Regions from separate parts of the Homo sapiens genome. Here region 2 is linked to region 1. Evidence: fine-mapped expression QTL. A gene starts in region 1. The other region holds a variant in brackets. All regions are shown on one strand. Distances are between the middles of the regions.

What was found. PIP is the estimated chance that this variant, and not a neighbour inherited with it, causes the effect.
Region 2: its variant is fine-mapped to the expression of KCNQ4 in whole blood (TOPMed, PIP above 0.99).

Annotation. Positions count from the first base shown.
Region 1 is chr1:40,782,279-40,785,173 of GRCh38, forward strand. KCNQ4 (potassium voltage-gated channel subfamily Q member 4) reads left to right here and starts at 1,509. Exons shown (of 14, transcript NM_004700.4): 1 at 1,509-2,129. The coding sequence starts at 1,816.
Region 2 is chr1:40,814,887-40,817,781 of GRCh38, forward strand. KCNQ4 (potassium voltage-gated channel subfamily Q member 4) reads left to right here. Exons shown (of 14, transcript NM_004700.4): 2 at 2,379-2,469. Among named protein-coding and RNA genes, the nearest start is that of KCNQ4, 33 kb to the left of the region's middle. The variant CT/C (reference allele first, on the strand shown) is at 1,161.

The DNA.
Region 1 (2,895 bases):
TTGGGGTCCAGAAACTGTCCCCAGCTTCCAGTAGAGGATCCGGGCATAACCTGCCCTGGGGCACCCGGCTCTGGCCCTGGGCACACCTGGACCAGGAGCAGCAGAAGAGATTCAGGTCAGACCCCAGAGGGCACCCCCAGCTAGGCAGAGGGGAAAGGATCACTATGGGGTAGGGGTGTGGGCCGGTTGCCAAGCCCAGTTTAGGGACCCCACAGATCCCTGCAGCCCACGGCCCTGCCTCCCTCCCTCCCTCACTGGCGCTCAGCAGATCAATGCTGCCTTTGCTGACAGCTGAGAATCGAGCTCGCCTTCCCGCCCCTTCCCCCGCCCCTCCCGCTCGGCTTCGTCCCTCGAGATCCTCCCGGAGGAACCGGGAAGAGTTTGCTGCGGAAGGCTCACCCTGGGGCAGGGCCTGCGGAGGGAGCGGCTGGTGTGGCCGCAGCTTTCCGTGGAGGAAGAGGGAAAGAGGATCGGGAAACCCAAGTTACCAACCCTGTGCAGGGCCCAGGAGGGCTAAAGGAGAGGGACTGCCCCCTACAGCCAGAGAGATGGAGGTCGGGGACTAAGAAAAACTTTCCAGCTGGAGAGGGAATGCCCTGGGACAAAGTATCCCCTTTTCTGGCTGGGATTCTGTGGGCCTTGGGTAGGGGGTGTGTGTCCCCTCTAAGGCTGGCTTAGAGCTCATCTCCCAACACTCCATCTGCCCAAACCCAGTTCCCTGACCTGGGAGTGGGGCAGGGGAGCAGGCCCCTCCATCGGGGAGGATCCTCTTCTGGGCAGGGTGGCTCTTCCCCCATCACGATGAAGGGAAGCTCAGAGGTGGCAGTTGGTGGGAGAAAGACACACCCAGGCCCACTGTGTTCCACACACCCTGATGCTGCCTAGCAGCCCGTGGGCTCCAGGCCTTTCAGGTAAGAGCAGGACAACCGCCGCTGCCCACCCAGCCACACACAGCACTGGGCACACTTTAAGCACCCGCACCAGGCACACAGTGCTCGACCCCAACGGACACACCTCATCCCCTTCGGACTCCACCTCCACTTTCGCAGCCACCCACACCCGACCCATAACTCACACCTCACTGACTCCATCCCCGCACCTGGTAGACCCACAGCCACCCACCCTGCACACACAAGTAGACGCCGTTCCACCGGTCTACACCTAAACTCCACGGGACACTGCGTCCCTTCCCCTGCCGCCCGCGGCCACAACTCCACATTCCACTTTCCACAAGCACACACGAGGCGTCCCACCCCGGGCTGGCCTTCGGGGCCACACTGCCCCACGCAGCGGTGGACACCACTTGCACGCGTCCGGCTTCCCGGCCCCGCGCGCTGCCCCCGCCACGCGGTTCGGCCCAGGCACCAACTCGGCCGCCCGTGCGCCCTGCCCCGCCGCCTGCTCCGCGCGTTCCCTCCCTCCGCCTCGCCTCGCTTGCTCGCTCGCTCCCTCCCGATTTGGGAAGGCGGCCGCGGGGCGGGCGGGGGAGGGGCGGGGCGGGGGAGGGTGACATGTGAGCGGCGCGCGCCGGTGGCAGGTGGAAAGGCGAGCGGCATGGAGCGCGTAATAAGAGAGTTGGAGTCGGAAAGAGCAGCCCCAGTCGCCGGGGAAGCGGGAGGTCAGTGCGGGCTCCGGCGGCCCCCAGGCTCCGAGCGCCCGCCCGCGGCCCCGGCCCGGCCCCTAGCCCCCGCCGCCCGCGCCCGCCCCGGGTCGCCCCTCTGGCCCCGGGTCCGAGCCATGCGTCTCTGAGCGCCCCGAGCGCGCCCCCGCCCCGGACCGTGCCCGGGCCCCGGCGCCCCCAGCCCGGCGCCGCCCATGGCCGAGGCCCCCCCGCGCCGCCTCGGCCTGGGTCCCCCGCCCGGGGACGCCCCCCGCGCGGAGCTAGTGGCGCTCACGGCCGTGCAGAGCGAACAGGGCGAGGCGGGCGGGGGCGGCTCCCCGCGCCGCCTCGGCCTCCTGGGCAGCCCCCTGCCGCCGGGCGCGCCCCTCCCTGGGCCGGGCTCCGGCTCGGGCTCCGCCTGCGGCCAGCGCTCCTCGGCCGCGCACAAGCGCTACCGCCGCCTGCAGAACTGGGTCTACAACGTGCTGGAGCGGCCCCGCGGCTGGGCCTTCGTCTACCACGTCTTCATGTGAGTTTGCGACCCCGCGCCCTTCCGCGTTTCCCCGCGCAAGCCTGGCCTCCCGGGGCACGGCCGCCCCGCCCTGGCTCCGCCTTCTACCCCCCTGCCTCAGGGCCGACCCTCATCTCTCTCCCCCCAGGCCTAAGCCCGGTTTCTGATCCCCTCGCTGAGCCCGACCCTAAGCCCTGATCTCCCAGGCCTGACCCCTGCTTGACCTCGCTTCTGACCTCCCCGCACCGCAACTGCTTATTTCCATCCTGACCGCCAATCTCTGCTCCTCTGTCCCAGGTACTCCCGACCGCCAGCTGCCTCCCCCAAGTCCGCTTGGCGAAGTCTGGGGCCCCTGGAGTGGGCGCCCTTTTCCTCTTCCCCACCCCTGCCTCCCTGTGTCCCAGACACAAAGAGGAACCCTTGGCTCCCACACGCTTCTGTCACCTGCTCCCCAGCTCTGAGCTATGAAGGGCTCCCCTCAGGGGTGCTCCTCTCCAGGGCGGCCCTCATTCCTACCCCTGCCCAGCTGACTGTGGGTGTGTGGGGGTCCCTGTGGGCCCCCTGGGCCCTGACACTCGCATATGCTGTGTCCGACTTGATCTGTGTCTTCGCTCAGTCTTCCCCTCCACCCTCAACTTCCCAGTGGCAACGGCGGCCGCCCTGCCTGCCCTGCCCTACCCTGCCGGCTTGGCCCAGCTCGCCTGCCTTGTTGGCTGGCAGCACCAGGCCTGGCTCTAGGCACCAGGGGAAAAAGAAAGAGGAGAGGGGTAGGTTTGGAAACACT
Region 2 (2,895 bases), 33 kb after region 1:
TTTTTTTTTAAATTGTGAAGTGGAAATTTTATAGATGTGTAATTACTGACATGGCAAGAAAAGTGTTAATGATGGCCAGGCTTGGTGGCTCACGCCTGTAATCCCAGCACTTTGGGAGGCCGAGGCAGGTGGATCACGAGGTCAGGAGATCAAGACCATCCTGGCCAACATGGTGCAACCCCGTCTCTACTAAAAATACAAAAATTAGCTGGGCACGGTGGCATGTGCCTGTAGCCCCAGCTACTCGGGAGGCTGAGGCAGCAGAATCGCTTGAACCCGGGAGGCGGAGGTTGCAGTGAGCCGAGATCACACCACTGCACTTCAGCCTGGTAACAGGATGAGACTCCATCTCAAAAAAAAAAAAAAGCAAAAGGAAAAAGAAAAGTGTTAATGAAACATTCAAGAAGAAGTCCCCAGAGTGGCCCACTGCTGCCTGAGCTTCTGAGGTCAGCTGAGAAACGGGACTGGAGGGTGTCTGTCAAGGCCGGGGTAAAGTCTTAAAAAGTCCTGGCTGTGGCCATTCCCCGAGGAGAGGGCTGCATGAGATAACCTCATGAAGGACCCTTCTGGTCCTAAACCCTGCTTCAGCTGCAGTCCCGATGCAGGTACATGTGGCCGCTGCCTTTTTTGTGATTAATTATTGAACATGAGGAGCTGGTGCTCTTCTCTTCTGTTCTCCCGTACCCCGTGTTTTTGCTGACTCAGCTCTGGTCTGGAACTGGCCGAGGAATAAGCTCTTCTCGAACTCATTCACTCATAACACTTTACCGACATCTGCCACCTACCTTCTCAAACCAGGGGTATTTGCTGGGATACACTTGCCCCCCAAAAAGGTCAGGAACCCCTGTCCAGGAGGTGTAAGTGAGCCAGGGCAGTGCCACGCCCTTTGCATGTCTTCCTTCCATAGCCCCCACTTCATAGATAACGAGATGGCTCAGAGAAGGCAGGTGACAGTCTCAAAACCACACACACAAGCAGGACTGGGATCCAAACTCAGGTCTCTCTGACCCCGAGCTGCTGTCCTTAAGGTCACCACGAAACATGAATATAAATAAAGCCACATAGAAGGTGACTTGGGCCACACATAGGGAGGCAAGCATCGGGAGTTGGCAGTTCTGAAGGGGGGATAGTGGGGTGCGGGAATCAGAGGCTCCGTAGAG[CT/C]TTGTAGCATTTGTGTTCCTGTAGGCGTGGACGATGAGCAGAGTCTCGCAGGCACAGACATGAGGTGTTCTGCGTAGCATGCACCGTGCCAGCAACGGTGCAGAGGTGGGGAGACTGGGGACATCTGGGAAGGCTGGCGGGTCAGTACACAGAGATGTATTTCCAGAGAAGCCTGTTCCCTCCGGAGTCTCCTCCAGGGTGTGTGCATGTTCAGCACACCCCCATCCTAAAGAGGGGTGCTCCTGGAGGCCACCTCATTCGCCTCTGCTGTGTCTGCAGCCTGTGACCTCTCACCTCGCTCTCCTTCACCCATCCACATACCGCAAGGCCACCAGTTTCTCTCCTCATGCCCTTGGTCCTCTTCCCATCCACTGGGAGGTTGGGAACCCTGGCTCTAATCTCAGCTCTGTCCTGGGCACACTGGGCGACAAAGGGTGAGTCCTTCTTCCTCTTCGGGCCTGTTTCCTCGTGGTGCACTGGGGGATGAGGGAAGTATTGGATGTGCTAGGGTCTAAAGTTCCTTCCATTTCTATGTCTCTGGTTCTGGGCCACTCTGTAGTTTCATGCTGTCTGCAGGGAAGTTCCTGGCCTCGATGGCCCAGCTCCACACTGCCCAATTCCCCTCCCTACATCCTCTCCCTGCTGCATCATTCCTTCTCTACCTGTCCTCCATGATCCTCTTTCCTTTTCTAGCTGTCTCGTTACTTAATTCCACGAAGGCAGGGGCAGTTGTCCCAATTCTGCAGATGAGGCCAGGCTCCTGCCACTTTGGAGTGCATAAGAAAGAAGGTCCCTCCTTCATCCGCTGACCTTCCCTGAGCCCTGGGCTGACCTCTGGGGCACTTCTCCCAAGACATCTTAAAACCAAGCTGGGGCCAAGGCCACCACTTGTGGATGGCTAGACCTGGAGGAACCCTGAGTCAGTCTATTTCCACTGCCAGACCTGCTACTCACAGATGAGTGACTACCTCTCTGAGCTGCAGCCTGCAGCAGGGGGCAATTGAGATAGTTGTGAGGTCCAGTAGCTTGGGGCTTGAGGGCTGCTGCCTTTGGTGCCCAGCACAGAGCTGTAACTCCAGGGAATTCCAATTCTGATTTCCACATAATTTTCTGAAAATAATGTTCTCCTCTCTTGGCTCTGTAACCCCCTGCCAGGGGCACCTTGGCTGTCCTGTCCCTCCAACAATCTAACCCTCTCCCTCATGTTGTAATTGCAGATTTTTGCTGGTCTTCAGCTGCCTGGTGCTGTCTGTGCTGTCCACTATCCAGGAGCACCAGGAACTTGCCAACGAGTGTCTCCTCATCTTGGTAAGTGCTGGGAGTCCGGGACTGAGGGGGGCTGTGTGAGGTAGCACCTCTGGGCTGGGAGTCCGGGACTGAGGGGGGCTGTGTGAGGTAGCACCTCTGGGCTGGGAGTCCGGGACTGAAGGGGGCTGTGTGAGGTAGCACCTCTGGGCTGGGAGTCCGGGACTGAGGGGGGCCGTGTGAGGTGGCACCTCTGGGCTGAGGGCTGAAGGTGGAAAGAGGCTTCTCATACCATGGCTCAGAGAGCAGCTTGCTGTGCTGTGTTCCCTCAGCTGTGGCTGCCCCTCTCTGGGCATCATCTCCACTTTATAGCAAGTGTTGGGGGACCTCCTGCCTCTATGCAAGGGCTTATGATGGGTCCAGAATAGAAGTGAGTAGGCTCCACCCCTTCTCAGGACAAAATCTGCAAACTCCACGTGTGGTGGATTT